Regions from separate parts of the Homo sapiens genome. Here all the other regions are linked to region 1. The links come from fine-mapping of genetic effects on gene expression. A gene starts in region 1. Each other region holds a variant in brackets. All regions are shown on one strand. Distances are from middle to middle.

Region 1 (6,610 bases):
TATGCAGCCCAGGTGTTCACACGCCTTCCTTCATCAAGCTCTTATCATCAAAGCTTCCCAATTACTCTAGCCCCAACGGATCCTTCCTACCTCTGAGCTTCTGCTGGACTTACACTCAATACTACAGAGTTTAGTTCTTAGCTATTCTTTAATTGAGAGGGCAAAAATACCCCTTATGAATCCAGGCTAATATTATTTGATTTTTAATATATGTGTCAGGCATACAGTAAGACTGGAAGATACAAAAATAATTAAAACTAATCCCGATCCAGAATGAGCTTAGTCTTTTACTGGTGTATGTAAACACCATTAATAATATTGTCCCTAACACAACACAAGTGCTATAAGACAAGTGCTAGGTGGTTATAGGATTCACTGAGTTGGAAAATTTCAAGGCAGGAAGGATTTCAGAGATAATCTAACTGCATGTATTCTCTGAATACACAAAAAAGGAAACAGTCCAAAGCATCTAAGCAACTCAGCCAGTACTATGAAGCAGACCAGATTAGACCAAGGACCAGTGTATAGTTGCTTTGACGCCTAAGCCAAAAATACCTTTTGACTCTGTGATTTTCAAATTGAGATCAGCCAGGCACAGTGGGTCACACCTATAGTCCCAGCACTGGGAAGCTGAGGCCAGCGCATCACTTGCATTCAGGAGTTCAAGACCAGCCTGGGCAACGTAGGAAGACCTCACCTCCACAAATAATTTTTAAAATGAGCCGAACCCGGTGGCACGCACCTATAGTCCCAGCTACTTGGGAGGCTGAGGTAGAAGGATTTCTGGAATCATGGCGCTCAAGGCTGCAGTGTGTTGTGACTGTGCCACTGCACTCTAGCCTGGGTGACAGAACAAGACCCCCTTTCAATCAATAAACAAACTGAGATTGAAGGATGCCGATGCGTGTGTCACCCATCGCTTTAAGATTCATAATTTCCCGGCCCGGCGCAGGGGTTCACGCCTGTAATCCCAGCACTCTGGGAGGCCGAGGTGGGTGGATCACGAGGTCCACCGTCACGAGGATCGCGACGGTGAAACCCCGTCTCTACTAAAAATACAAAAAGTTAGTCGGGCGTGGTGACGGGCGCCTGTAGTCCCAGCTACTTGGGAGGCTGAGGCGGCAGAATGGCGTGAACCCGGGAGGCAGAGCTTGCACTGAGCAGAGATCTCGCCACTGTACTTCAGCCTAGGCAACAGGGTGAGACTCTGTCTTTAAAAATACAAAAAAGATTCATAATTTCATTACAATTACTTTTAAGTTTGTGTATTCATATCAATAATAATTTTTGACTAATATAAACATACTCTAAAGCATATGATTAGAAGTCCACACTATCACCATGTGATTTCAGCAGGCAGTCCAGAAGGTCCAAGAACATATTCCCCAGGATCTGAGTACAATCAACATCCTAGTACACCGCTTAGCAGAGTGATCAATGAATGTTATTTCCCAGTTTCAAAATCCTCTCAACAGTGACCTAAAATTCATCCATTCAATAAACATTTAAGCACCTACTATGTGGCAGACGCTGGACTAGGAACCCAGGCTGGATTAAGATGCGTAAACTGGAGAATGAGTGGAAAAGTAACTGAGAGGACACCTCTGTAACCAGCACTTCCTGTATGGCCTAATCTTGCTGCTGCTTGACACTAGAAATATTAAAAGTTCTTTGCTAGAAGACTATTTTTTCAGTACCAACTTCATTTCCCATATGATTCTTACATAATGGGCTCCCAAGAACTTAGCAAGTTAATAACCATCTTTTAGAAAAGTAATACAGTTGACCCTTAAGCAACATGGGTTTGAATGAGACAGATCCACTTATACACGGATTTTTTCAACAAAAGTTGCACTGAGTGTGCCTGCATCTCCCACTCCCCTTTCACTTCCTCCATCTCTTCCATCTCTGCCATTCCTGAGAAAATCCCTCCTCTTCTTCCTCCTCCACAATCTACTCATGCAGACTATGGGGATAATAACCTTCATGATTCTCCACTTTCATTTAAAGAAGAGTAAATACATTTGTTGTGATTTTAACATTTTCCTCTCTCAGCTTACTTTAAGAATACAGTATATAATACGTATAACATACAAAATACATGTAAGTCAACTGTTTATGTATCAGTAAGGCTTCTGGTCAACAGTAGGCTATTAGTAAAGTCCTGGGAAAGTCAAAAGTTACATGGAAATTTTTGACTGCGTGGGCACCCCTAACCCCAGTGTTGTTCAAGGGTCAACTGTAGTTCAAAATGGCATTCAATACAGGAAATTAAATACTTGACAAGAAAAAAAGATCACTTTCTAAAACTTCCAAGAGTTGGTCCAAGTCACACTGGGGGAACTCTGCTTCTCTGCTTTAATTTATTAAGTTTCTACTTAGACAAACAAGTGAACATGTAAGTACTAAGCACACATCACCCTCTTTCTATTACTACTCTGGGAATCGCCAACTTTTAGCACAAAAAAATCATCTTTGAGAAGATTCTGGCTTTCAGTTGATTTGTCATTAAAGGAGTCAGTTACACAAAGCATGGGCCAGTACATACTAACATTCATAAACAAAACATTATTATGCATTAGAAGACAGATCCACATAAGCTCAGAAGTAACTTTTCAATATTGCATAGTGCACACAAAAAGATTTAATTAAAGTGTGGCTAACTTAGAAAAAATATTTTTTAAGTGTTCCTTGTAAGTTTACTCACAGATTCATAAAGGCATCAGACTTAAAATTTCTCAGACTTATTAGTATGTTGACCTTTGGCAGATTAAAAATAACTTACTTCCATTCAAAGACGAGTTCTTTCAAGAACTATTTCTCGGAATTACTAAAGTGTTTTCTTAACAATCTTGGGATACAGGGTTACGCATCACCAGGCTTCCAGGCTGCTGGTGTGCGGACCTGGAGCCGGCGCGCAAGGTCTCAATGGCAGCTACAACAGGACCTCAGGCTCTTTGCTCAAGCACTCTGAGCCGCCGCTCCCCTATCCGTAAAATGGGTCACACGGCAGCGTACATACACCCGCGCGAGGATCAAGTACGTGCACGCAAACGCTGACAACAGCGGCAGGCGCCTTTTAAGCGCTCAGGACAGCCAGAGCGGGATGCACGCCTAGGCAGACAGGTAACACCCGCCTCGCGTTCACTTTTCCGGAGAAATTCTCAAATCTCACGGAGTGGCAACTGCGCAAGGGCGAAGCGGCGCAGTCTGGGGCCAGCTCCAGCGGGCGGGGCCTGGAGTCAGCCCTCTGCAGCCCACGCCCCTCACCGGCGCAGGTGGGGACCGCGGGGGTGCGAACTGGCGGGGGTGGGCGCGGAGCCCAGCAGGCGGCTGACGGCGGGGATGGGGGCTGCGGGGCTGGGAACCGCGGGGGGTCGCGGGGCCCCGCAGGTGACCGACGGCGCCAGTGGGCGCGGCTGTCCCTTCACCGCTGAGGCCTGGACGGACGCCGCAGGCGGCCACCTCCGTGCAGCTGACGTCCATGTCCCGCTGGCCTTCGGCCAGGCCCTCCAGCCTCCCACACATACCTCCAGCCGTCCTGCCGCAGCTCACGGCCGGCACAGACAGGGCCCGGTAGGTCTCGCCGAAGACTCCGCGGCCGCCAGCCGCCGGCACCTCACTTCCGCCCGCCGCGAGCGCCGAGCGTGTAGATCCGCCTGGCAGTCGAGCGCCGAGTCCTCGATGGGCGGAGCCTTCAGGGGAGGGTAGAGGAGGGGAGGAGACCGGCGCGGGTGCTGGAGGTCAGCAGGGGCCGTGGGCGGTGGACGCTGGAATGCCTTGGGTTCCGAGGGACCCAGCTGCCTGAATGGACACGAGTAGGAGGTTTTTGCTGGGCGTCTTTGCGGTGGCGGGAAGCGGTGAGGGAGGGAAAGAAGGATACAAGCTCAAGGGGCAGGCCGGGTGCACCATCCATCCCCGTGCCCTCGGGTCATCTCAGGGAGACTGTGGGATGATAGTGCGTTTGTGGGCCACAGTTCACAACGATGGGCCCTGCATCGGGTCAGAGGACCCCTCCGGAACAGGGGGATGCACAAGGTCAAGAGAATGCATGGAATCAGAGGGCTGCACCAGGTCAGGGGGGCTGCACCGAGACCAGAGGAAGCATCAGGTCAGGAGGATGCACTGGAGTGTGCATCCCCAGGGGGCCACACTGGGTAAGGAGGATGCACCAGGTTAGGAGGCAGCACTGGGTCAGAAGGATGCACTGGAATCAGGGGACTGTACCAGGTTGGGGGGCGTGCCTCAGGTCAGGAGGAGGCACTGGGGTCCGGGGGCAACATTGAGTCAGGGGCAGCCCTAGGTCAGGAGGATGCATGGGGTCAGGGGGCTGCAGGGGTTTGAGGGCTGCACTGGGTCAGGGCGCCATACCAGGTCAGGGGATGCGCAGGATCGGGGGAGATGCCCGGGGTCGTGGGATGCTGGGGGTTGGGGGGATGCTCGGGGTCGGGGAGTTCTCGAGGTCGGGGGATACTCGGGGTCAGGGGGTTCTCAGGGTTGGGGGGATACTTAGGGTCAGGGGATGCTCTAGGTTGGGGGAAGCTCGGGTTCAGGGGCTATGGCCAGGGAGGAAGGACAATCAGGAAAGTGGGGGTAGCGGATTCTGGAAGCTAAATAGTTTCAGGAAGGAGGAATTGATAGCCAATGTTCAGAAGTACTGTGAGGCCAAGACTCCAGAGACAATTGAGTTTGGCATATGCCAGTCATTGGCATCCTTGACAAAAGCAGTTTCAAAGGAGTGTGGGGAAGCTACATCTCGTCAGAGTGGACTGTGAAAAGAATATTAAGTGAAGTGGAAAAAAGTAAGTTTCAACAACCTAGGTTGGCAGATTTAGCAATAAAAATACAAATACCCAGTAAAGTTTAATTTCAGATAAACAACAAGTAATTTGTAGTATAGATATATTTATCACTAAACTAATGTTGCATGGGATATACTTCTACTAAAACATTGTTTTGAGAGGTGACAGCGTGCTGGCAGCCCTCACAGCCCTCGCTCGCTCTGGGCACCTCCTCGGCCTTGGCACCCACTCTGGCTGTGCTTGAGGAGCCCTTCAGCCCACCGCTGCACTGTGGGAGCCCCTTTCTAGGCTGGCCAAGGCCGGAGCCGGCTCCCTCAGCTTGTGGGGAGGTGTGGAGGGAGAGGCGCTGGTGGGAACCCGGGCTGCGTGCGGCACTTGCGGGCCAGCGCGAGTTCTGGGTGGGCGTGGGCTCAGCGGGCCGGCACTCGGAGCGGCCAGCCAACCCGCCGGCCCTGGGCAGTGAGGGGCTTAGCACCTGGGCCAGCAGCTGCTGTGCTCAATTTCTCCCCGGGCCTTAGCTGCCTTCCCGCGGGGCAGGGCTGGGGACCTGCAGCCTGCAGTGCCTGAGCCAACCCCCCCCGCCATGGGCTTCCGTGCGCCCGAGCCTCCCCGACGAGCGCTGCCCCCTGCTTCACGGCCCCCAGTCCCATCGACCACCCAAGGGCTGAGGAGTGTGGGCGCATGGCTCGGGACTGGCAGGCGGCTCCACCTGCGGCCCCGGTCGGGATCCACTGGGTGAAGCCAGCTGGGTTCCTGAGTCTGGTGGGGACTTGGAGAACCTTTATGTCTAGCCCAGGGATTATAAATACACCAATCGGCACACTGTATCTAGCTCAAGGTTTGTAAACACACCAGTCCGCACCCTGTGTCTAGCTCAGGGTTTGTGAATGCACCAATCGACACTCTGTATCTAGCTACTCTGGTGGGGACTTGGAGAACCTTTGTGTCCAAAATCTGTGTCTAGCTAATCTCGTGGGGAGGTGGAGAACTTTTGTGTCCAGCTCAGGGATTGTAAACGCACCAATCAGCACCCTGTCAAAATGGACCGATCAGCTCTCTGTAAAATGGACCAATCGGCTCTCTGTAAAATGGACCAATCATCAGCAGGATGTGGGTGGGGGCCAGATAAGAGAATAAACGCAGCCTGCCCGAGCTGGCAGTGGTAGTTTGCTCCGGTTTCTTTCCACACTGTGGAAGTTTTATTTTTTTGCTCTTTGGGGTAAATCTGGCTGCTGTTTATACTTTGGGTCCACACTGCCTCTATGAGCTGTAACTCTCGCCGCGAAGGTCTCTAGCTTCACTCCTGAACCAGCGAGATCACGACCCTACCAGAAGGAAGAAACTCCGAACACATCTGAACATCAGAAGGAGCAAACTCCAGATACGCCGCCTTTAGGAACTGTAACACATACCGCAAGGGTCCGCGGCTTCATTCTTGAAGTCAGTGAGACCAAGAACTTACCAATTCCAGACACAGTTTTAGTATTTGTTAGTAAAAGTACGGCCCCAATATTGCACGGGACATACGTATACTAAATTGTTACTATCTGAAATTCACATTTAACTGGATGTTCTGTATTTTCATCTGGCTACTTTGACAACCCCTCTGAGGAGTTGTGTGACAAAGGGAGCAGAGATGGGCGGTAGTTGCTAGAGAGGCATGGTATCAAGGAAAAAGTCTGTTTTAAGATGGGAGCTATTAACAAAACATGTAAAGAGGGAACCGCTGATGCAGGAGAGAGGGAGCAACTGCAGAGCAAGTCTTTGAGAAAGGTAAGAGAGGGTAGGACCTGTTGCACGAGGGCAGA
Region 2 (6,610 bases), 75 kb before region 1:
GGATCTGGACAACAAGGTTTGGGGAGCTTCCTTGGCTGCAAGTACTCCATGTGTGTGTCACGGACTGTTACCAGGAAAGTCAGTGCTGCCTGCAATTCCACTGGGAGACTACTGGAAGCTCCATGGATGAAAATTTCCTAGACCTGCTCCATGAATCTCTATCCCTGGCTGACTATAACCTGTAATTTCCCTGTAATGAACCATAAGTCTGAGTACAACAGCTTTCACTGAGTTCTGTGAGTCCTTCTAGCAAAACACCAAACTGAGGGTAATCTTGGGGACTACTTATAAATATATTATCATCAAGAGAATCTAAACCATCAAAAGTGACAAAGTAAATACATGCTTTACATATGAAGAAAAGCCGACAGAATCCAAATTAAAGAAAGAGATTTGTCTGTCATGTTTAATATAAATAAGCTATATTTAAATAATATAATCAATCAGGCATTGATACTATATCAAATAGTGGACCCTGAAGAAACCACATCCGTCCGTCCTTTTTAATTTTTGGCATACTTACAAAAACTTAAATATATATTAAGAAACATATTCTCTGTTCACAATACTATGAGAACAGAGACTATGAAAACAAAAATTTACTAAAAACTACTAAGGAGGAAAATTACAATACACATTTTAAAAACACAAAAAAGATATCTCTGAAGAATCAATGTTAAAAAAATCACACAGAACATACAAATACTAAACAGATAACGAAAGGGCCTATAACATGAATTTTAAATGATTTAAAAATTAGAATGCAATGCTAATAAAACATGAAAATCTTAATAGAGAATTTCAGGGAAAACAAACCAAAATAAAGCAGAGACAGTAGAGGTTTGAAAAGTATATGTGGGTGTGGGTGTGTGTGTGTGTGTGTGTGTGTGTGTATGTATGTGTATACATACATATTTATCTATCTGTCTCACCTGTTCGTTCCCAGTCCCCCCTTGAAGCTACTGATCCACTGCAGTGTCTGTTCAGGAGACCCCAGACACGAATGCACTCCTGCCTGGTGTGATGAAACAGGAAGCACAGCACTATCCATGCCTAAAAGTGTTGAAAGTGAATCTTATCTAATATCCAATTAGATGAGTCCAAGCAATTTAATGGCAAGAAAAATAAGTTAAATGACACCACAAGGAAGTCATCAGTCAAATTCAGAGTGGGGGATATCTTCCAGGACAAATGACCTTGTTTCTTCAACAAATCAATAGCATGAAAAACCAGAAACAGGCTGGGCGTGGAAATTAGCTGGGCGTGGTGGTGGGCACCTGTAATCCCAGCTACTTGGGAGGCTGAGGCAGGAGAATCATGTGAACCCAGGAGGCAGAGGTTGCAGTAAGCTGAAATCGCACCACCGCACTCCAGCCTGGGCAACAGAGTGAGACTCCATCTCAAAAGAAAAAAAAAAAAAAAGAAAAACCAGAAACAGGGTAAGAAAGGTGAGGGGATGGTTTTAGTTTAAAAGAGGCTTAAGAGATTTAAAAATTAAGTGAAATGCCTGAATTTTATTTGAATCTTGATTTGGACATATCACCTATAAAAATAAAGTTTGGGGATAATTTGAGAAATCTGAACTGGGAATGAGATGATATTAAACAATTATTGCCAATTTGGTTAACTATGATAATATCATTGTGATTATGCACATAAATGTCCTTGCCCTTACTTGGGAGATTATACTTTCATCTCCACTTTTCACATTTCAAAATTTTCATAACAGAAAAGTAAAAACAACTTACCCGAGCAACTTTACATATCAGCTCTGTCAAATTTGAACCATGTAATTCCTAGTCTACATAGTCCACTGACAATAGTGGATCTCTCTGTGTTGCTCTATGTGCTGTCAGTGGTAATTTAGAGAGAAGAGCAATAAGCACAAATAAAGAATGGCACACCATCAAGAAACATAAGGCACACATATTTATCAGGAAGAGCACCTACCTTCTCTGTTCCCTCTTAGACATTCACATTTTACCCCTTCAAAAACCTAACTTCTGCCGGGCGCGGTGGCTCACGCCTGTAATCCCAGCACTTTGGGAGGCCGAGGCGGGCGGATCACGAGGTCAGGAGATCGAGACCATCCTGGCTAACACGGTGAAACCCCGTCTCTACTAAAAATACAAAAAATTAGCCGGGCGCAGTGGCGGGCGCCTGTAGTCCCAGCTCCTCGGGAGGCTGAGGCAGGAGAATGGCGTGAACCCGGGAGGCGGAGCTTGCAGTGAGCTGAGATCGCGCCACAGCACTCCCGCCTGGGCGACAGAGCGAAACTCCGTCTCAAAAAAAAAAAAAAAAAAAAACTAACTTCTACCTGCAAGGAAGAAGCTGCATCACATACACTGCATCACATACACATTTAATGTGTTGGAGGTCAATTAAGTATATATGGCACAGGAAGAGGGGGGCTTATTTATTTATTTATTTATTTAATTTATTTAGAGATGGGGTCTCGCTCTGTCACCAGGCTGGAGTGCAGTGGCGCGATCTCGGCTCACTGCAACCTCCGCCTCCCACGCTCAAGCAATTCTCCAGCCTCAGCCTCCCAAGGAGCTAGGACTACAGGTATGCACTACGCCTGGCTAATTTTTTGTATTTTTAGTAGAGAGGGAGGAGGGGGACTTTTAAAATAATAAAAGAATGTCTATACTTTAGGAATAAAAATAATTTTTAAAATTTACCTTCCTGAATTGAAGAAGATGTGGCCTCAATGCATGGTTAGAGTTATGGATACTTAAGCTATATGGGTATTTAGTTTTAAGTATCTTAGCTATTAAAAAGAATTGAGTTAACTTTTATTGATATAGATTACTTTTTACTAAATAGCAATAATTAAACTTTCATTAATTAAAAGCAGTTTTATAAAAAAAAAACTCTACCAACATCTTGCATTAAAATGTCTAAAGCTATGACATCTGTACTCCATACAACGTCCCTCCCATACACAGATGGCACAGTGACAGCTACCTGCGTGCATACGTGGGCGCCTGTGCGATAAGGGCTGAAGAGACTGGTATCCTATCATCAGCCTTTCCAAAGTGAACACACAATGGGTTGCATTTATAGAATTAGTCACATATGTAAGATATTGGTGGTTGTGCATTGGGATTTAATTTCGTATCAGCCCTGGAGTGTGGACATCACAGAGAGTTAAAGTAGTCTCCCATTTCACACATGTAAGATGGGTTAACAAAAGCCTCAGAGATAAATTTTTAAAGTACCAAGTCTTCAAAGAGATGCCAGCCTACTCTGCAACAAATATTTATAGCACATTTGAGATCTCTACTTTGATAAAAACAGACCGAGTGTCACACCCTGTAAACACCCTGCAGGCAGTGCCGGGTTTCCATGGCGGAAGCTGCCAGCAGATGGCTCTGAGGATCGCCTTACCTGAGAGGGCATCCTGTGCTTCGAAGAATGTACTGAGACCGCCTTTCACATAGGCCAGGCTGCCCTCACTCTTCTTGTTAGCCTGTCTCTTTAGGTTGGTGACTGCCATTTTGAGCTGCTCAAAACTGAAATGAAATAAAGAAACCAAAGTTTGACACTTCTAACATGCAAGAAAGAAAAAATAATTCCTTCAGTGGAGAACACTAAATATGCTAAAACCGATGCTAAGTAGCACACAGATTAATATCATACGAAGCCAGATGAAATCAAAAAGCTTTCAAATTGTTGCGTAGATCTAAACCTTTTATTTATTATGAATGCCTAAATTACAACAGCTACAAGACTTTCGGAGCCCTCGATGGTAATTCCAAATACATTAGACCCCTAAGAAGTAAATGTGTAGATGTTTTTATAACCTATATATAATATATACAATTTACCAGATAAAGAGTTTTGAACATCCTGTACTAGGTAAGAAGACACAGATCATCCAGTGATAGACAACATTTCAAAGATGGAACTGCTTTGTACATTCACTGAAGCATTGTGGAACACTAAGCATAATGTTATACTTA[T/C]CAGTATCCAGTCCTCTGTCCTTAGTCATAAAATTACATGAATCCTGTGGGTCGATTCACAACTTAAATAACTAGGAAGACCACAATATCTCATCTCAATATCTAAAGCAGAGAAAACTAAAGACAGGCCTCTGTATTTCAGAAGTTTTATGTCCATTTGAGCTAAGAAAATCCGGCTATAAAACTTTAAACGTATTCTTGATAGACCTACACAAGAAACAGAGCTCAATTCTGACTTATAATAATAGAAATTCTACATCTGTAATGTAAAATCAGAATCATCTTCTACAATGAAAAAATTCATCTTGGACATTTGCTTTAAAAAGCAATCAGGTTAAATTTACCCTATGTATTAAAATGCCAACCTTTCCTCATCTTGGACATTTGCTTTAAAAAGCAATCAGGTTAAATTTATCCTGTGTATTAAAATGCCAACTTTTCCTGATGTTTTCTAGTAATGCTTTTCACCCTAATAAATGAATGAAACATTTATATTAAGGTATATTTTAACACACTAATTTATCAATAATTTAAGTTTTAAGCAATAAACCATTGATTTATCCAAACATTTTTTGCTGAATATAATTATTTTAAATCAATCTTGCAAATAAGCTACAAACTTGCTCTTGTACAGAGTAAAATGTAATTAGAAGACAGAAGGGAACCTTCAAATTGGATATATGACCTTGTCTACTTTTTTGCTAATTTTAAGCCAGGTCCTTACATGATGATAAACCAACTCATCTTCCTTTGCCCTATGGTCAGAGAAGGCAGTGTGTTCCATGTTTTACCCCAGAACTTAAAATTTTTATGTTATTTGAGTAGGGAGAGATCACATTCATACATGTCAGTTTAAGTCCCCAGCTAAGGCTCCATAAATTTTTAATAACCTGCATCAATAATGAAATATATTGAACATAAAATGACAGTAGGAAATGAGAGACCTCTAAAGAATCATCCCATTGCACAAACAGGGAAACAGACACCCTGAGATGTTCACGGGTAAACGCAAAGTCAAAGAGCTCGCAGACCTAAAACCATGTAACTGTATGCAGAGCCAGACCTAAAACTCGAGTTACCGTGTAATTCCATCTTTAGCATCTGAGTGAAACCCTTCACAGTTGACAGTCCCATATCCACTAACCTGGTGTTTGAGTGATTCTCTATAAGATACCAGGCTGCTGAGAAATTCTCACTTGTAAAATCAGCACTCATTCCATGGAATAGCATTTCTAAGTCCTTCTGCGAAAATTTACTTCTGAGGGGAAAAAACGTTTAAAATATATTTCAATGGTTATTATGACAAAAATGGAAAAGGTATCACTAAGTATCCAGTATAACACATATGAATACTAACCATTACAACAATACATATTAATCATACATTACCCAGAACATGTTTGTATATATGTACAAAATATATTTCCCACATCATGGCTGATTTTTCTATCACTTAAACTTTGATTTTATATAGAAAAGATAGGAAACTAGTTGAAATACAGAAATTACATCAATAAAAGAATATAAGGTTTAAAGAGGATTAAGACATCTGGCTGAGTTGACAGTTTTATTAAACCTATCAAAATATGACATCAATCCCCATTCAATGTATAAAAATCAAAATTTGAATACAGTGAAATTCTAAAATATTAAATCACTTTGTTAAAATGATTTTTGTTAAAACCTAGATGAAAGTTGTTTTAAGACATACTAAGAAATCATCAAAGTACTAATAAAACCACATCTAATCACAAAGCACTCACATTTGCGTCCATGTCTAGAATGACTTTAAGAAAAGCTTGTGATAACAACAGGGTATATACATAATCTGCTGCTCCCTCATCTTGCCTACATGTTTAAGACTGACTTCTGGATCAATTCATTTATATATTCGTTCGACTATTAATCAAGTATCGACAATAGATCAGGTTCCATGCTGGGATGCCAGATGTACCCACCGAGGCTCACAACGTGGCAGCCTTTGCTGGCGCCCCCTGCCCCATTTGCAGGATGAAATCCAAGCATGTCTATGAACTGAATCTGCTTGTCCCTCAGGGCTCATTTCTGCCACTCTAGGCATGAAACCTGACGCTTCGGCAGCCTCAAAGGGACTATACTGTCTCGCATGTTGGTCTCCACCATCTTGGGGTTTACTTTGTTCGTCTGATTTGCCGCCCCCTCTAAGATGTGTCCCCTACCCCAAAACACTGGACAAGCCCAACTCATAAGGTATAAACCAGACACAGATCATTTGATAGGGTAGTATCTCTTTAACAGTTACGCAGTGGGGAAAACACTCCTACCCCAAAAGAATTTTAATGTGGGTAGGTCCGATGACTTTGGTATTCTCTGGGAGAGTCTTGCTGTCTCCTCATTACAAACACAGCCTCAATTCAGAAATTAGGCAGCTTAGTTCGTGATCCACACTCCAACTTCACCCAAAGGTAACATTTTTTTCTTCCCTCTTCCCAGCCAAGGTCAATAGTTAATAGGCTGCTTACTCGTTTGGGGGAAAAATGGCAGCTCTCTCGTAGAGGTTAAGGGTGGGATGGACAGAGAGACAAGAATGGAATGTCCTTCGGGGCCTGTGCCTGGTACTGCCATAGGTGGTCTGTGCTCTCTGCCTGCCAGGTATTCGAACC
Region 3 (6,610 bases), 160 kb before region 1:
ACGATCAATTATTACAAGTTATCATTAATTATTCTCTAGAATTTAAGAACAGCTTTAAGCCACTAATAATACAAAGTGTCCAATTTCCAAACTATCCAAGAAATGGGTTTAAGCAAACAAAAAGTTAAAATCAAATTAATCTCTCACTCTCAGTAGATATGAGAAAAATGAGAATAAAATGAAAAGAATTCAAGCAAGTATCAATTGATAAAAGTATATCCACATCTATTACTCAAGAAACTTTATTACTTACCTGTTGGAGGCAGGCAGTCCTTCCAATCAAAATATCCTGCATAAATTCCAGGTTCTAAGGAGCCAACGATGGGATCTGCTTTCAACTCGATGTAATTTTCAAAGAGTCTTTGATCTAGTTCTTTCAATGAGGCCATGCTAACCTATAAACACATAATGAAGAGTATGAGTTGCCTATTTGAGGGTGATGGAAAAAGTAAAATAATGTTAACAATAAATACTTCAGACTATAATAAAAGCACTTCTCAATTTTCCTACAAAAACTCGTGACTTTTATATATTTTCAGTAACAAAGATCTCTTTTAGCATAGCTATTTTGCAGGAGAAAAAATAATCTCCATATATGGACTACAGGTCATTGTATTAGTCCGTTCTCATACTGCTATAAAGAACTGCCCAAGATTAGGTAATTTATAAAAGAAAGAAGTTTAATTGACTCAATTATGTTATGCATGGCTGGGGAGCCCTCAGGAAACTTACAGTCTTGGTGGAAGGCAAAGGGGAAGCAAGGCATCTTCTTCACAAGAAGAAGGAGAAGGTGGCCAGAAGGAGAAGTACCCAGTGGAAGGGGAAGAGAGCCCCTTATAAAACCATTAGATCCCATTAGAACTTACTATCATGAGAAGAGCATGGGGGAAACGGCCACTACGATTCAATGACCTCCACCTGGTCTCTCCCTTGACACGTGGGGATTATGGGGATTACAAATCAAGAGGAGATTTGGGTAGGGACAGAAAGCCTAACCATATCATTCATTTTTGAAAATACTAACCACTCATTTCTGTACACAGAGCAAGAGGCATTATAAATACTAAATTGTAATAGCCAGTAAACTACAATTAAAAAGGAACCATTTAAAATCATGTTCTGTTTCTTCATATTAACTAATTCATTTGAAAAGTGTGACCAATAGAAAATAAGCCTGCTCTGACACTCCAGTAACCCCAGTGTGGCTCCCCTGGATTCTCCCTCCAGTTACAGCTCTGCTTGAGGGGCGTGCAGGTCAGGCCTTCGAGTCTAAGGCAACTCCACAGGGAGGCCAGACACACGCTCGCTGTCATGGGCAAAAAGGAACAGGAAAGACCCCTATCAGTAAGTCCTGTCCTTGGCACAGTTCAGCTGCATGGACTGTGGGGGCTCCCGATGGGAGTGGGAGCAGAAGAGGGTAAGGAGGCTGGCATCAGCCCTACGTGAGTGTGCCTTGTCTCACCAGCAGGCAGGAGGCCAGAAGAAGAAGAGGGGGGAGGCAGAGACCCAAGCATGGAGGATATGGGAAGTCTGGGGTGTGGAGAGTCTGTGGGCCCAGGTCACCCTGCAGGGGGCTGGTGGCCGTTCTGCTTCTGCAGCACTGGCCTGAGAGGGATAGGCTTCTCTCCAATGCCAGGCCTGAGCTGCAACGAACTACAGTGAAAAATAAACACACGTCTAAGGGAGTCCGCTGCTATGCACAGGCACATCCACCAAGCAGTGAAACTCAGCTGCAGAAGAGACAAGCAACAACTTGAACAGAAAAAAGAAAGAAAACCCTCATGACGATTAAAGTATAATACAAAACAAGATTTCCAGAGGTGAAACATACAACTTCCAAAGCTAACAAATGAGTAGATTAACACAAGGAACTCCTGGTCACTGTTGAGACTGATCTGAAGTGCAAGAACTACTTCAAAACATAGAGTAAAAGTGTAAAGACATGAAAACTATGAACAACAAGACTAGAAGATAAACCCAGGAGCTCTAACATGCAAAAAATAGAAATTCAAGTAAAGAAATACAAGCAGATAGAGAAAAGGTATTCATTAAACAAGCAGTAGGAGAAAATTTAACTGGATCTAAAGAAAGACCCAAGTTTGCAACTTGAGTAGGCTTGCAGAGTGCCAGGCTAGACTGGTAAGACAGCCCACATATCTAGGCAACTACTGTTAAAGTTTCTAGTTTCTAATACATTTACTCTAAATGAGAGAGAGACAGAGAGAGAGAGAGAGAGAGAGACAGAGACAGACTGACTTTCAAGCTTCTAGATCAAAACAATAATTTACTTACAAAGAAGAAAGAACTGGTC[T/C]GACGTCAGATTTCTCACATGCAGTACTGGGAGCTGAAATCACTGGATTAAAATCTACAGGAATGAAAGAACAGAACCCAAGAATCCTGTATTTAGCCAGCGTGTCATTCTCTTAACAGAGTCCGAGAAAGATATTTTTGGATATGCAAGGGTTCAAGGAGTATTTCACCCATGTAATGAGAAAGGGCTCTAACCTAAAATCAAACACATCAGAACGAAGAAGATGAACTACTGAGGAAAACAGTGACAGGCAATAACTCTGAGTTCCCTCTCGCCCTTCTTTATCTCTCTCTTTCTCTAGTATCTATAAACACAAACCGAAATAGATGATTAGAGACTCCCTGGACATGTGAAATACAAGTGTGAAGTAAGATTTCTTCAAAGGAAGGAGGCATCCAAAAGGGAAATACTAATAACACACAATGAAGAGATAACATATCAAAATCTGCAAGAGAGAACCAGTGGCTAGAAATTTATAGCTGAAAATGTTTTAAAAGAAAAGTTTAAAAGGAGAAAAACTTAAATCACTGCTCTAATTTTCTGCCCCAAGTATCTAGAAAAAGAGAAAATTAAACCCAAAGAAAATAGAAGGAAAAGATAAAGAACAGAAATCAATATCTTAAAAAGGTAAATATTAAAGAAAACCACCAATGCCAAAAGTAGGATCTTTGGAAATAATAATAAAAATGATTAGCCAGGCATGGTGGTGCGCATCTGTGGTCCCAGCTACTTGGGGGCTATGGTGAGAGAATGACTTTAGCCCAGGAGATCGAGGCTGCAGCGTGGTATGATTCAACTACCGTACTCCAATCTAGGTAACAGAGCAAGACCCTGTCTCTTAAAAAATTTGAAATTTTTTAAAAATTAAAAAGGAATAACAACAGAAACGATAAGCTCCTGGGCAAGACTGATGAAGAAATAAAGAAAAAAACCCACATATTGCCAAGAACAGAAATGAAAAAAGAAACATTCCTATAGATCCTGAAGACATTAAAAGGATAGTAAAAGGACATTACAGTTTTATGCCATCAAGTCTTGACAACATAGAGGAAATTGCTAATCTGCTGAAAAACACAACCTTCAAAAACTGGCACAAGTAGTCCTATATTTATTAAACTAATTGAATCCATTATAGACAAGGACTTGACAATGAGAACTTCAGGTCCAGGTGGTTTCATTTGTGACTCTACCAAGCATGTAAGGAAGAAATTATAGCACACACAAACATTTTCATAGAATAGAGGCTGAAAGCATTTCCTATTTTGTTTAATGAAGCCAGTATAACCCTAATATCCAAACTGAGCAAGATATTGTAAGAAAAAAATCACACGCCAATAGCCTTCATGAACAAAGACATAAAAACCCAAACAAACTATTGGCAAATAGAAACTATAAATAAATTTTAAAAACATATCATGCAGAAGTGGTATTTTTTCAACAGATGAAAAAGCACTTGAGAAAATTCAATATACTTTCATGACAAAAATTCTCAGTAAACTAAGACTAGAAAGAAAATCAGCTGTGTAAAGGGCATCTACAAAATGGTACAAATATAGAGTGCTTTCTCCAGAAGATCAGGAATAAGGCAAAGTTGTCCCCTTTCACCACTATTTCAAGATTATACCAGAGGTCCTAGTCCATGAGATCTGGCAAGAAATAATACCAAAAAAGAAGAAGTAAAACTGTTTTTATTAACAGAAGACATCATTACGTATTTAGAAATTCTAAGCAGGTTGACATACTAATGGAATAAGTAAATTTATGGAGGCAGCAGAGTCAATAACAAAAATCAATTATATTTCTATATAATAGACATCGAAGGATTATAATACAATACCATAAAAAATAAAATACCTAGGAATAAACTTAACAAAAGACATGGAAAATCTCTAATGGAAACTACAAAACACTGCTGAAAGAAATTAAAGATGGCCTAAACAAATAAATAGGATCATCAATATTGGTAATTTTCTCCAAATTCAATGAACCCCTAAAAGGCCTTTTCTTGGTAAAAATTCACAGGCTAAAATTTATATATAAATGGAAAGGACCTAAAATAGCCCAAACAATTTAAAAAGAACAAAGTTGGAAGACTCATACTACTTGATATCAAGACTGACTATAAACCTATAATAAATAAAACAATGCAATATTGGCATAAGGATAGACATCATAGACCTAAACATAAAAGTTAACATTACAAAACTTCTGGGAAAAAATATTCAGGACATTGAAGCAGGTAAAGATTCTGACAACATATGAAAGGCATTAAACATTTTAAAAGCTTGATACAATGGATCTCATCAAAATTAAACAATTCTGTTCAAAAGATATTATAAAAACAAAACAGCAAGCCATGAACTGAAAAAATATGTATGCATGACAAAGGACTTATTTAGAGCCTTCTAAAAATCGTCAATAGAAAGATGACTGATCCAATTTAAAAATGAGCTGGGGTTAAACAGCACTTCAAGAAAGAAGCTACCTGAATGTATCTGAATATACAAGAAAAGGTGCTTAACATCATTGTTAGGGAAAACCAAATAAAGCAACAATGAGACTGGCTGAAATAAACAAGATTGGTAATATTAAGTGTTGGCTAGGATGCAGTTTATAACCGAGTTTATGACCGACGGAGCGTACACTTGAGTTGACGACCGACGGAGCGTACACTCGAGATGACGACCGACGGAGCGCACACACGAGATGACGGCCGACGGAGGGCACACACGAGATGACGGCCGACGGAGCGTACACTCGAGTTGACAGCCGACGGAGCGCACACACGAGATGACGGCCGACGGAGCGTACACTCGAGTTGACGGCCGACGGAGCGCACACTCGAGTTGATGGCCGACGGAGCGTACACTCGAGTTCATGACCGACGGAGCGTACACATGAGGTGACGGCCGACGGAGCGTACACTCGAGTTGATGGCCGACGGAGCGTACACTCAAGATGATGACCGACGGAGCGTACACTCGAGTTGATGACCGATGGAGTGTACACTCTGGAAAACTACTCAGAGTTCCTAATCAGCTTGTGCCACGACCAGCTATTGTACTTCAAGGTTTATATCCAAGATCAGTGAGTACAAACATCCACAAAGAGACTTACAGGAATATTCACCACAACTTTATCCATAAAGGCCTAAAACTGGAGACAACCCCATGTCCATCACCATGAGAATGATTAAACAAAATCTGGTTATCCAAACTCAGCAATAAAAGAAAATGACTCACTGGTACACACAACTGGATGAATCTCAAAAAATTAATTTGGAGCAAAAGAAGCCAGATACAAAAGACAACAAACTGCATGGAACTCCACGTAAAGTTCTGGGACAGGCAAAATGATTCTCTGCAGATAGCAGCTGGAACGTTGCTGAGAAGGGAGCCTACTCAAACAGGGCACAAGGGAAGGTTTTGTATTTTCATCTGGTGGTGGATGCTGGAACGTGTGCATATGTAAAAAGCCATCAATCCATAAGCTTAAGATTTGTGTCTTTTACTGTAGGTAAATTACACCTCATTTTTTAAAAAAAGAAGGGAAAAGAGGAGTTGAAAATAAATAGATGTGCAAACAGTTAATAGGCAAATGCTACAAAAAGAGAGTAGAATGGCAGTATTAATGTGTGATGAGGCAGGATCAATGTCAGGAGTACACAGCTCATACTTTTTGTTGTAAGGATTTAAACAGATAATTCAGGAAACTTGCATAGCACACTGAAAGCAAATACATAATAAATGCTAGCAGCTATTTCTATTAACTCAACAGCCTCATTTTCACTAACACCCTGTTCACACTGGCTGCTGAACATAGAAAACTGGGTCTGCTTGATTCCTGCTCAAAAAGCAAGGGTCAGATCCATCTACCATTAATCGCTATCTGAGAGTGAGGAAGAAAGATTAACTTTAAAAACATCCTGACACTAAGGAAATCAGTCTTATAAAGTGATGTGTTTAAGGAATGCAGTGGTTAAACAGAGACGGAGCGCTAAAGGGTCACTGATGGGGGTGAGAAAGGCAGCAGAGTAGACATGCCTGAGGGTCCAGTGGCCTTTTAGGGCAGGTGTCTCTAACAAAAACACAGTGCCTCCTTTAAAAAAGATAACAATTTAATTGTGTACAGACAGTCCCAACTTATGAGAGTTCAACTCATGATTTTCCCACTTTACCAGGGTGTAAAAGCAATGCGCATTCAGTATGTTCCCTGGCTTATGATGTGCTACGTCAGGTTAAACCCACTGTAAGTAGAAAATATCTGGCCGGGCACAGTGGCTCACGCCTATAATCCTAG
Region 4 (6,610 bases), 190 kb before region 1:
GTCTGTGAGCCACAGCCACTCTCAAAGTGTTGGCAAAGCAGTGAGTAACAAATCCTGAAATGACTGAATGAAAACAGGCAGCCATAGATCATGGTGGTAGCTCTGGTCTCTTCTTTCAATGTTCCTCAGAAGAGTCCTCCTAACCAGGATGTTCACTGAGGATGTTAACACAAAGCTTAAGATGAAAGCGTGTCAAGTGAGAGCAAGTTTTCGCATGGCCCAGAAGCACCAATACTGTCTGCATGACCCTAAGTCAACCACGGACAGGAAACCACGCATCTGTTCCAGTGTCGGCCTGCCCCGAGTCTCTTTCTAAGCAGTGTCTGCCTTTCTGGAATCCCAGCCACTGCTACAGGAATCAGATACCAGTGCTTATTTGTACACAGGCTAAAAAGAGGTTAATTCATTTTCCAAGATAAGGGATTTACTATTCTTTGAAGGATAAACATCCTTGCAATCTATCTTCACCTTTCAAATATTTATGAATTTAGCTGGAATTATCAAAGAAAACATACAATTTCAGAGAAAGACTCACAGTTAAACACACACACACACACACACACACACACACACACACACACACAGAGACAGAGAGAGACAGACAGTGCGAGCAAGAGCTGAACTGTATCTTATTTATACCCAAGACACATTCTGAGGGAAAAAAAAGACCACCATAGAAATAATCAAATTTACATCTTTCTTTTTTCTTTTTTTTGGTTATCCATATCTCTTAGGAACATCTAATGATACTTTACCTCTGCATGCACGGCAATTATATTCACCAGTGCTTCTTTTAAATAGTTTCTGACACCTGAAATTGAAATAAAGGAGAGAAAGAAGGCATTAATAATAACACAAGCTCCCCTCCCCTGCTGGCAGGCTGTACCCCATGCTTTAGAGTTTTCTGAGGAGAAACAGAAAGTAACACCACCACTATTTCCTTTTGAGAATCAAATGGTGAAAGGAGTATTTCCATACAGGTCAAAAAGAAAAAAAAAGAAATGAGAAGTTTTCTTTTATTGTTTTTCATTTCTGTCACTGTTTATGTTCTCTATAACTGGCTCTCAGTCGGCCTCAAAATGAAAATTTAAGAATGTTCTTCAGTTTCTTCACGCACACACACACAGAGAATATATATAGATAAGTATCTATATATACTGTAAAACATATACACACTGTAAAACATATACGGTAAAACATATATACTGTAAAACACACACACACACTCAGTATAAGCAGTAACACAAAATACAGAGGGTGTTTAACAATGCTTATAAAATGCACATTAAATATCAATTATAGCATCTTACTACCAAAGGTGAAAGTCAAGTTATTGAGCAGAAGGACCATTTTTGTCTTAAGGAATCACTTTTAGGAGAAACTCCTTATAAAACTGAATTTGATTCTGTAAGCAAGTTAAAGCCTGGACAAAATAAAACATCAGATTTTAGGTACAAGTTCAATGAGCCTCACTTTGCTCAAAAGCAGAAACACACAGGATTTAAGAATGTGGGGTCTGAGGTCTGACTATTGGGGACCAAACCCCAGTTTCGACAGCTGCTAGTTGTGACTTTTGGCAAGAAGGCTGTGAGCCTCAGTTTTCTCATCTGTCACAGGAGAATAATAATTGTCCCACCCTTGGGGGGCTGCAGTGAGGATGAAGGGGGATGCATGCCATAGGTCCTGGCATTCACAGCGTTCACTAAGAGCTTTCATTATCATCATTTTGCAGGAAAAAAACCCCATAAAAACAAAATACTGTTTTATTGTGTTTCCAAAACAATTCCTTTCCCTTGAAGTGGGAGATTCCAGATGCCTTCTAGAGCTGCACACACTGAGAACATCTCCTCTATAGAACAGGGAAAATGCTGCACTGTAAAAGCATGGATGTTCCCAGTAACAACATTAAGGAAAATATTCTCCCAGAGTCTCATCCACGCTACTGGTTAGTTGGGAAAGTTGAGATAGAGATCAAGAACTATAATCAACCTTTTGAACGGGCATTTGCATATTCCAAATATAGAACTAGGTTTTGATTGTGTCACACACTACGGTATACAAATAAGGACACGGTTTTTCTTTTGAGGAGCCAATTTCATATACAGATCAATATCAAGGGCATAGGTATATATCGAGATATATATAGAGACATATAGATATACATATCTATATATATCTATATATCTATATATCTATTGGCTCCTCAAAAGATATATATATTATATATATCTATATATATTATATATATCTATATATATTATATATATCTATATATATTATATATATCTATATATTATATATATCTATATATATTATATATATATTATATATATCTATATATATTATATATATCTATATATATTATATATATCTATATATTATATATATCTATATATATTATATATATCTATATATTATATATATCTATATATATTATATATATCTATATATATTATATATATCTATATATTATATATATCTATATATATATATTATATATATCTATATATATTATATATATCTATATATTATATATATCTATATATATTATATATATCTATATATTATATATATCTATATATATTATATATATCTATATATATTATATATATCTATATATTATATATATCTATATATATTATATATATCTATATATTATATATATCTATATATATTATATATATCTATATATAATATCTATATTATATTATATATATTATATATCTATATATTATATATCTATATATATCGATATATATAGATAGATATATCTATCTATAAAAGATATATATATCTATAAAAGATATATATATCTCTATATAAAAGATATATCTATCTATGTATATATATTGGCTCCTCAAAACAAAAACAGTGTGCTTATTAAGTCTATTTTGCTGAGATGGCTGAGTGAAGAGTAATTCAATATAATCCAGAAATTAATGGATTCTTCCTGAGAAAAAGGATAATTGCAAGGTAAGAAGTCTTATCTAGGAGGCAGGAGAGAAGAACAGAAAGAGCCTGTTGTAAGTGAAAGTGAAATAAACGAACTCGTCTGGAGACCAGAGAGGCTTTCTTCCCGCAGGAGGAAAGCCACACCCCCCGGTGTCCCCAGACTGCTCCCGCTGCTGTGGGGGCACTGGGGCCTGGCCTCGCCGCTCATACCCTCTGGGCAGCCCCACCCAGGGGCGGAGATCCACATGCTCAGGTCTGGTCTCTAAGCCGCACGCCATGGAGGACCAGCTCATGTAGACGCACAGGTAACATACATACTTACTGAAAATCGAAGCACAATAGTAAGCTGCTATTTTCGATGCTCTAAGGAACAGAATAAAAAATTCACAGCCTCTGCCCTCAGTGAGAACCGGGGTCCTGTCAACACTCCTGCAAGAACAAGTGTCAGGATTTGGGGCTCTAACGATGTGCTACGGTGCAAGGATGACTGGAAATGCGAAGGCAGTTTTTAACTTTTGAAATTCCTCAATGTAAAAGAAAAGAGTGGGGGCAGAGTGCTGACTAAAAAGCAGAAAATTATACTTAGAGTGAAGCCAGGCGGTGTCACATGCTCAGTGACAGCCTGCTGTGAACTCAACTCCCACTCGGACCCCGACATCATAAACACTTCCTGGCAAGAACCCACCCGCCTAAGCATTACTAATAAGACACCCCGTAAAAGAGGTGAAGTGTAAACTGCTCAATGCAATTCTGAAGACAAAGCTATGAATGGGAAGAATAAAGGCACAGGACCCTTTGAACCAAAAGAACCATATTTTTGTGGGCAGAAAATTTG[G/GA]AAAAAAAAAATCAAGCTTCCTATTTTGGGTCGAGCACAGGTTTCACATGGATAATATAAGGAGCTCAAAGACGTAACCTTGGACAAGAAAGAACTTTTGTATTTCTAGATTTTATCTTTTTGAATGAAAAAAAGGAAATAATTGCCTTCTTTCCCCTCACACAAAAAAACGAAATAACTGCTTCATACAAATAACTGGTAATGTTGGAAAAAGAGAAGGGAAAAATGTGTGGTCCTGTGTGGACAGGAAGTGGTACCGCTAGTCAAACCACACATCAGGCCAGTGAGGTTCAAAGAGGCAGCATTCAACTGGATGCATCGGAAAGGGCCGGAGTGAGGCGGAGCTCTGCGAGCTGCCATCATAACCTCCCAGTGCAGTGCCTGTGCTGGTATTATAATTTTTGGTAACAAAAACTTTAATATAAAAATAAATCATTGATGGTCTCTCTCCAAAAAGCTAATCGCTGAATTAAATACAGGAGCAAGTACTTTTTTTTTTTTTTATTACCGATTGGGCTGAAATTGTTCATTCTAAGGGAATGGCTAAAAGTTCTCATTCATTCAACTAACATAAATTCATTGAGATCCTACTACATGGAGGATGCCACTAGGCACATGGCAGAGGTGCTCAAGGCATATGGTGCTCCAAGTAGAACACGTATACATCTCCAGTATATGTAAGACCCCAAAGTGCTTAGTTATTACAAGTTTGACCTGCCAATATATGCAGGATGGCCATATGAAAGAATTTCATGTTGTAAAAAACATCTTTGCCCCATTTACCCTGATGTGGTATTTATTACGCATTTGCCCTGATGATGTGGTATTTATTTATTACGCATTTGCAAGCCTGTATCAAAATCTCTCTTGTAACTGCTAAGTGTATACACCTACTATGAACCCACAAAAACTAAACATAAAAAAATTTATACTTCAATTTAAAATAATTTGTTATATGTTTGGTTGCTATATTTATTTTGTGAAGTCCTTAAACGGTTAAAGAATAGTACTGGATAGGAACAGAGGAAGGGCAAAGGGCCTAGAGACCAGATAGTGTCCGTGTCTGGGAAACCGGTAAGATCTCTGTGGTCTTCCTCGTTCAGAATTTCGCTTCCTTTCTCTCTTCACTCCGGCCACAGCTGGGTACTGGCCTAGGGAGAGACCAGCCGAGTAGCACGCCCGCACCCTCGCCTTCCTCCTCAGCCTGTCCCGTGGGCTCTTGGGTCCAAGTAAGACTTTTACTCCCATAAAGCACTCACTTCCAATTGCTTGTTTTCTGTTTCAAAATGTTATCCAAAATCTGTCTGTGGGAGGATGTCAGCTCTTTCAAACACCTGTGTCCAAAGAAGCCCGTGCTGGGACAGGTGCTGGGGTGGCCCGGCTCGCTGGCTCCATGCAGCTCTGACGGCCAACACCGTTGGCAAAAGCAGTAGCCACGTGCTTTCCCGACTGGGCAGAGGAAGGTGCTGGCAGCCAGGGTAAAGGCATGCACATGCGAACACTGAGAGGAGGCCCAGACCAGGCAGGGGCTGGGACGGTGACGTACGGTGATGCAGGGCTCGCCTGCGGCCTCGCAGTCTCTTCCTTAAATGGGAGGTCAGACGGAGAAGGTGAGGCAGAGGCCGTCAGAGAGGGGCTCCGTGTGCATCCGTTATGGAAGCGGCTGAGGCCTCGCGGTGATGGCAGAACGATGTGTGGGATGAGTTTCAAAGGACCTCAGTTGTGGCTCCTGGCGGCAGGACCAGAATCTGATTTTTGGTGACAGAACCTTTTTCAAAGGGCCAGTGACGGTGACAGAGGGGCCATGCTGCAATTATTTTTGGTGGCATATGTCCTCCTCCCATTGAATTTCATTCCAATGTCACTATCAGTAACGTTAGTGCTTGATAATTCCTTTTAAGTTTATTGAGGTGACAGAAAGAACACTTGAGATGGAATTTCCTGGCTAACCCTACACCAATCGTATGACCTTCCACAACTCAGCTTATCTTTCAGACAACTGCCTACTCTGCGAAACAGACAGATCACGAGACCCATTTTGCTAACGAAGCTGTTATGAAAATGCCACGTGTGTGCAATTCCCCCATTCTTCCAACACGTGCTGTGTATCTATCATGTGCTGGGCATCAACAGGTGGTGATATAAGAAAGTGGGCAAAACAGACAGGACCCCCCACCCTAAGAGAGCTTACAGGTCAGTGGGGAGGAGCATCTTGCCAATTCTAAAGTAGTACACATATTTCAGGTGTTAATTTAAAATTAAAGACATAACAGTTGACTAAAAAGCATAATGACTAGAAACAGCACACTGATTTCTCTTTCTGAAATGCAAGGTATTAAGTTTGGACAATGGTCCTGCCATGACTGTCTAGCTGCTGCAGATCCTGGCTGTACATTAATTCTTTTGAGTGGTACAAGGAATGGCTAACAGTTGAGTTTGCATATAGGAACACAACAACGGCAGAAAAAAAAAACACGAATACAACATGAAATATGGCTGTGATGTGCTAGAACTGGAAACGTTTGTCCTTGACAGTACTCCTCATTTTGCTGGTTTCATACATAGTCCTTGGAAGTTAGAATTTCCGTTCAACTCTCACCATACTTTGCACTGGTGTTGAGAATGGCTCAATGTCAAATGCCGGTGATGGCTGGGGAAGACTTTGCTTCTGTGGCGACATCTGAGCCGTGGCCTGAGCGAAGAGGATCGGGGGACACAGACAGAATTAGACTGGGCCTCAGACACTCATTACTGAGTAGTCACCTGGGGGCAAGTTTCTGGACTGCTCTGACTTGTAGCTTTCTCCTTTGTAAAACAGAGACA
Region 5 (6,610 bases), 160 kb before region 1:
AAAACCCAAAAAGTTTGTCTTTTCTATTTTCCCACATATCAACCATTTCTGATTCTTTTTATTCCTTCCTTTAGATTCAAGTTTCCATCGAGTGTTTCTTTGGCTGCATCCCTCTGTGCCTTCTGCAGGAGTGCTGGGCACCTGCTGCAGTCGTGGATGGCCCTCAGATCTGGCTGGTGCAAGCTCCCCTCCTGCAAGGGTTCAAGCGCCCCCTCCAGTCTGTCGGCTTTTGACGGCTCTCCAGTGCTTCTCACAGCTGGGTTTCTATATTCTGTGCAGAGTTCAATTTTTAACTGTGGAACGGTTAGTCTGATAAGTTCTTCCTCTATTACTGAAACCAAAATTCCTCTGAAGCTTGCACTTTTTATTCTGTGGTAGTTCTAATTAAGAAAGCATGCTACATTTTATCATTAATTTTAGGATAGTTCCATCACAGGCTTACATAAAGGCATTGTAAAAACTTTCTAAGTGTAAGATAGTGCTACTACTAAGCTAACTTTACTAGGTTTTTCTTCACAAATTTACCCAAAGTGGAATTTATTCCATTTTCAAATGTCTAATAAAATGTTGAACATTGTTCAATGAGTGTTCTTGCAATGACTAGAGGCTTTCCTCTAGACTGACATGAAGACATGATGGCAATAAGTCAGCAACTAGGACTCCTGAAAATATCAGGAAAAACTGTCAAATGACTTGCAGAAACCTAAATTCACCATGTATGCCATTTCTCTATCAAATCAAGTGTGTGTCCAAGAAGAAAACAAGTTAGTACTGCATGTGCCTGTTCTTTGTGGGTATGCTGTCTCCATGAAGTTTTTCATTTCTTTAAAATATAGAAATTTCTTTTTTTAAAATAAAAATACATCTATTCTGCCCCAATATTTTTAAAAACAAAATTTTAAAGTAGAAAATTAAAGTTTTCTAGCATGCTCCTTCTTATCCCCTTTCAAGATATGTGTATACATGTCAAATTGTACATATGAAATAGATACATTGTCTTTTTCAATAAAAATGAGGAAAGAATGAATGCATGTCTCCTTAATCAACATTTTCTACCAATATATGTACAGTCCCCCACATATAGGTATGCATTTACTTATCCATCTATCCATCTCATCCATTATAAAGAAAGTATAATATTTGTTTAGATATATAACAAATTATCTAACCAATTCACTACTGATGGGCATTTAGTTTTTCAGATTCTACATATATTAAAAAATGTTTCAATAAACATCACTGTACATAATTCTTTACTTACTTCTGTAAAACTTTCCTTAAGACAAATTCTTAGACACAAAATTTCTAAGTAAATTCTATACATATAAATGTGTGCATACACACACACGCACACACACGTATGTGTATAGATGGGCCAATTTACACTCCTAGAAAGATGACGGAATAGTTTTTTTCTCTGTACCTTTGCCAAAAAGCAGGTATTATCAAGCTTTACAGTATCTGTCAATCCAGAGGGTTTTAATAAAATGATACCCTAATGGTATTTTAAATTACATTCTTTGAGAATTGATGAATTTTATCCTATTCTTATATTTATTGGCCATATTAGTTATTTTGTGAATTTCATGAACTTGTGTCTATTCTACCAGCACATCTGCCTTTTTCTTTGTGGATTTTTTTTTTTTTTTTTTTTTTTTTGAGACAGAGTTTCGCTCTTGTTGCCCAGGCTGGAGTGCAATGGCGTAATCTCGGCTCACGGCAACCTCTGCCTCCTGGGTTCAAGCGATTCTCCTGCCTCAACCTTCCGAGTAGCTGGGATGACAGGAATGCACCACCGTGCCCGGTTAATTTTATATTTTTAGTAGAGATGGGGTTTCTCCATTTTGGTCAGGCTGGTCTTGAACTCCCGACCTCAGGTGATCCGCCCGCCTCAGCCTCCCAAAATGCCGGGATTACAGGAGTGAGCCACCGCGCCCGGCTCTTCGTGGATTTCTAATGGAGGCTGTTTATTGTCTAGCAACACAGCACAATGCCTAAAATTAAGGGCTGCCTGGATTTGAACTCGGAACCCCTACCTCACCATTTCCTAGCTACATGAACTTGAGCAAGTCACTTAACTTCTTTGTGCTCAGTGGCTTCATCTATAAAATGAGAATAAAAATACTGCTTACTCCTTGAGGTGCTGTTATATAGATTAAATCAGGTGATTTATGCAAAGCCCTCTGCCTTGCACATGGTATATATGCAATAAATGCTGACTACGTTACTAAACATGGGTACCTAGTAATGTGTGTATATAAATGCATGTATAAGGAATATATGTATAAATTCACATATACATGTAACATACAACTTATTTTATAAGGACCTGAAAACATTTTAATGGTCCATTTTCTCAGAGAGCTACATTAAACTTTGAGGTCTGTCTGCAGTTTTCCATTTTTTGAAAATCAAACAAAAATTACAATTTCTCCTTATCTCCATTCTTGTAGCATTTTTCTTATTCTCTAGAAATTCTACGCTGGACCTGAGCTTTGAATGATTTAAGTTACAGGATGCAAGAGATAACCTAATTGTGCAATGTCTCTTGTAAAATTCAGTGAAAACATCTGCAAGATACATTCCAAAAGGCAGAGATCTTAAAATAAAATTCAACAAACATAGACTTGAGAAGAGCTGTGCTTCTGCCTCTGTCTCCATAATTAGACTTACATTTTCTTTCTCTTCAATTTGTTGGAATATGCTGCTTGGCACACTGCCTGGACAACACACTTACAAGTTTCGCTCACTGATGGACTGTGCACCCCAAGCCTGTGCTCTGGCACACCACTGACGGGCAGGAGGTTACCCTACTCTAGGTTATATGCATCATACATGGAAGCAACCAACTCTGCTGTTATTTTTAGAATGGTCCTAGACATACTCATGTCACAAATTATATAAAGTTTTCCCTTTCCCATTATAATTTCAATTACTATAATTAGTATAAGCACATTTGAATCAAAAATAAGTTCACTATTTACCTATAGAAAATGATTAAGTTTAGATTCACTTAGTAAATAACTTTAAATAATATACATTAATTTAAATTTTTATGACTTTTTGATAGAAAAAATAAAACCAGTATTTAACAGAAAACTTAAATAATACTTTTTTCTTATTTAATGTTTCAAAGACGTGAACTTCAATGTGTATTTGTAAGTAAAGACCAACAGTATTCTTATTTAAAATTTATAAAATTCAAATACTAAGAACTCTTAATAATTGCAGATAACAGAACAATTAAAATCTTAACAGCAGTTTTGTGACTCAGAACTAACTAGAATAATCTTTACTGACATATACACAAATAAAGAGGTGACAACAATTTAAATACCCAACGGTAAGATTTAAAAAAACATCGCTACGGCTTTAACGGATATCTCTTGTTGAATCATGAAATTAATCAACTGGATTTTTTTTTTTAATCACTACATACAGTATCGGAAACTAAATTTATTGGTAACTACAGCAATAAGTAATCAGTTACCTACATGATTTGCAAAATTCAGTTTCTGAAGAAGTAAACTCTGAAGATAATACTAAAGTTGTTAATTGAAATTATTTTGGAAGATTAATAGTCAAACTATTTTGGCTGCTCACTTTACACAAGGTCTCAACTTAAGTCAGCTTTAAACAAACTAAAAATCACTATATGACTATGCAAGGCTGAGGTTCAGTTAGTAATCATGAAGTCAAAACTACACAAAGAACAGAACTAAATAGAGTTTATAAAAGTGAAACGAGCACCGATGACTTCTACATGTTTTTGGAATCTGAGGAAGAGTAAATAAATTGCTGGTAGTATGGTGCCATGTGCCATTTGCTTATGAAAGAAAGTTTGTCAGGAAAAAAACAAAACCAATAAACGAAGCTATGTTAAAAAAAAAAGCCTCACCACTTAATGTCACACAGCCAGAAGAATCTTAATTTTGTAGTGAAGATTATCTGAGGTTACAGACTCTTATTAAGATCAACCTCAGGATTACATTTAGGCTCTGATCCTAATTCACAACCGAGGCTTGTCTAGTTCAATGTCATGGCTGGAAAATATGAAGGTCACAGAGACAGGATTCTGGGTACCTTAAATAAATCCAGTGAGGACTTTGAAATTCCAAGTGGTGGTAACTAGCTGGATGCAGAAGAACCCTAAGATAAATCCAGTGAGGACTTTGAAATTCCAAGTGGTGGTAACTAGCCGGATGCAGAAGAACCCTAAGATAAATCCAGTGAGGACTTTGAAATTCCAAGTGGTGGTAACTAGCCGGATGCAGAAGAACCCTAAGATCCCCGTTAGCCCGGCAT[C/T]GCCTGCCTTTTACCCCCCCCCGCGCCCTGGTTACTGCTCACTCAAGTGCTGCCACACGATTCACAGCCTCGTGATAATGGCCAGCAGCCCCTGCACTTGAAGTCCTGTGACCTAACGCCGCCCTTCAGGGAATGGGCCTTCATAGATGTCTGTTTTCCGAAGACACCTTGGAGCGGGTGGATGGGAAAGACCTGCCTTTCACCTGACAGACATTCTCGACTGCCCCTGCCGGTGTTCGGCATACACTAAAGATGCCTCGCTGTTTGTTAACGGAGGCAGCAGGTCTGAGAGAGGGCTGGCAAAGAAAAGTCTTCTTCTGCATCAGGGGCAAATAAATCCTCTTTCTCGGTAACAATCGGAGATTTCAGTGACGACAGAGAAGAATCACTTTGTTGAGAGTGAAACTCGGTGGCCCATTCTAAATTTTTATAGTCATCACTGAAGCGCAGGAAACTCAGAGGGGCTGTGTCATGATTTTTTTCTATTCTCAAAGAAATATCACAAGTGATTTAATAGCCTTGAACATAACCAATTAAGATAAGCATGATTTCAGAGTGAACAGTTAACGTACTTACATGTGAATCACAGGAAAAGATATGAACTTTGACAAAATTCATTTAAACTATTACTGAACAATGTATTACTTTTTGCATGGTGATGCAAAGTAATACATTGTTCAGTAATAGTTTACATAACTAAACAGATAGAATTGCTGATGTGTTAGATGTGTGAACAGTTAATGTCGTTACATGCTAATCACAGGGGAAGATACGAACTTTAACAAAATTCATTTTAACTATTACCGAAAAATGTATTACTTTTTGCATGGTGCAAGGTAATACATTGTTCGGTAAGAGTTTAAATAGTTAAACAGACAGACGTGCTGATGTGTTAGATACACTTGACAGTCGCATTTTAATTGAAACGCAGCTGCTCAAATTTAGCAAGTCTATGCAACTACCATATGAGAATTCACAAAGGACAAGAAAATGAGCACTCTCACTCATTCCCATTCAGCAAATATGAATATCCACCGTGTACTGTTTATTAAAAAGCAAATCAGAAGAACAGTGGAAGCTAGAACACTGTATAATGTACTTTCCTACTGAGAAAATTTTGAGAAAAATCAGGCAAAAGCATATGGCAAACACTTAGAAGAGAAGGAGCAACTGGCACATTTAGAGAGATGGTATATTATTATAGAAAATGCCAATCTTCATTTACTCCACAAACACACACACAGCATCAGCTGAGTGTCACAGACTGCACTATGCTAAAAACTCTGAGAACAAGACACCCAAATGACGGCCTTGTGCTGAGACTGTCCAGCAAGGAGCTAGATAACGACAAAACATTTCCCGCGGGCACAGAGAGTGGCAAGAGCTGCTCTGGGAGCATCACGAATGGAGGTAGGCCAATGCGACCTGGAGACATGCAGGGGATGGGCTGGGTGAGCTCCCAGAGGACACAGGGCCCGGAAGGGCAGGAGAGGTTAGGAGAGGGGCAGAGGTGAGAGGGACTAGGCACAGGGTTCACAGTGCACGAAGCACCCAGCCTGCCTGCTGCCTGGGGGAGCCCGTGGAGAGGGAAGTAACTCATAGCAAGCACAGGGAGTACTGCTGGCCCTCTGCATCTGTGGCCTCTGCATCTGTGGCCTCCACAACAGTGGCTTCTGCATCTGTGGATTCAACCAACCATGAATGGAAAATATTCCGGGGTGGGGGACCCAGATGGCTGCATCTGTACTGAGCATATACAAACTTTCTTCCTTGTCATGACTCCCTAAATGATACAGTTTAACAACTATTCACAAAGCACGGGCATTGTATTAGGTGTTATAAGTAATCTAGAAATGATTTAAAGCATACAGGAGGATGTGCATAGGTTACATGCGAATATGACACCATTTCACACTGGGAACTTGAGCATCCGTGGAATCTGGTACCTGTGGGGATGCTACCTTGTCTGAGAAGTCTGGGGTTAGCCTCAGGGAGAATGAGCCTCCTCGAAGGTTTTTCAGCAGGGGATTGACAGGATCCAATTTATATTTTAGAAGGATGAGCTTTTCAAAAAGGCAGAGGTTGAGTCCAGCTGGAGAGGGGCTGTGAGGTGGAGCATTGGGGCAGTGGGCAGAGTGCCAGGGCAGAGGTGGGCACAGCACAGCTTCCCCGGTTTTACTATCATGAGAAGATGTTGTAAGAATTTTAAGTAAGATACTGATAGAACCTGCCTTAAACTTTAAAAGGATGTACTTTGAGGGTATGAACTGAATGTGGTTTGGGCACAGAAAGTGTGTGCACAGAA

Which allele goes with the higher level. Alleles are on the strand shown, and positions count from the first base shown. SD is a standard deviation of normalised expression in the study named. Not every link is listed here.
For the expression in CD4 T cells of the gene that starts at base 3,651 in region 1, allele GA in region 4 goes with a higher level than allele G (large effect, 0.78 SD a copy in CEDAR).

Evidence for each region.
Region 2: its variant is fine-mapped to the expression of EXOC2 in prefrontal cortex (CommonMind, PIP 0.95).
Region 3: its variant is fine-mapped to the expression of EXOC2 in whole blood (INTERVAL, PIP above 0.99).
Region 4: its variant is fine-mapped to the expression of EXOC2 in CD4 T cells (CEDAR, PIP 0.95).
Region 5: its variant is fine-mapped to the expression of EXOC2 in atrial appendage (GTEx, PIP above 0.99).

What each region holds. Positions count from the first base shown.
Region 1 is chr6:689,489-696,098 of GRCh38, forward strand. EXOC2 (exocyst complex component 2) reads right to left here and starts at 3,651. Exons shown (of 28, transcript NM_018303.6): 1 at 3,531-3,651. RefSeq lists enhancers at 2,978-3,864, 5,294-5,802 and silencers at 3,271-3,340, 3,351-3,410.
Region 2 is chr6:614,318-620,927 of GRCh38, forward strand. It overlaps EXOC2 (exocyst complex component 2), which reads right to left. Exons shown (of 28, transcript NM_018303.6): 5 at 5,113-5,226; 6 at 3,394-3,518. Among named protein-coding and RNA genes, the nearest start is that of HUS1B, 39 kb to the right of the region's middle. The variant T/C (reference allele first, on the strand shown) is at 3,969.
Region 3 is chr6:532,216-538,825 of GRCh38, forward strand. EXOC2 (exocyst complex component 2) reads right to left here. Exons shown (of 28, transcript NM_018303.6): 23 at 254-395. Among named protein-coding and RNA genes, the nearest start is that of HUS1B, 120 kb to the right of the region's middle. The variant T/C (reference allele first, on the strand shown) is at 2,312.
Region 4 is chr6:498,890-505,499 of GRCh38, forward strand. It overlaps EXOC2 (exocyst complex component 2), which reads right to left. Exons shown (of 28, transcript NM_018303.6): 24 at 756-811. Among named protein-coding and RNA genes, the nearest start is that of IRF4, 110 kb to the left of the region's middle. The variant G/GA (reference allele first, on the strand shown) is at 3,788.
Region 5 is chr6:524,799-531,408 of GRCh38, forward strand. The region is part of intron 23 of EXOC2 (exocyst complex component 2); the gene reads right to left. Among named protein-coding and RNA genes, the nearest start is that of HUS1B, 130 kb to the right of the region's middle. The variant C/T (reference allele first, on the strand shown) is at 4,306.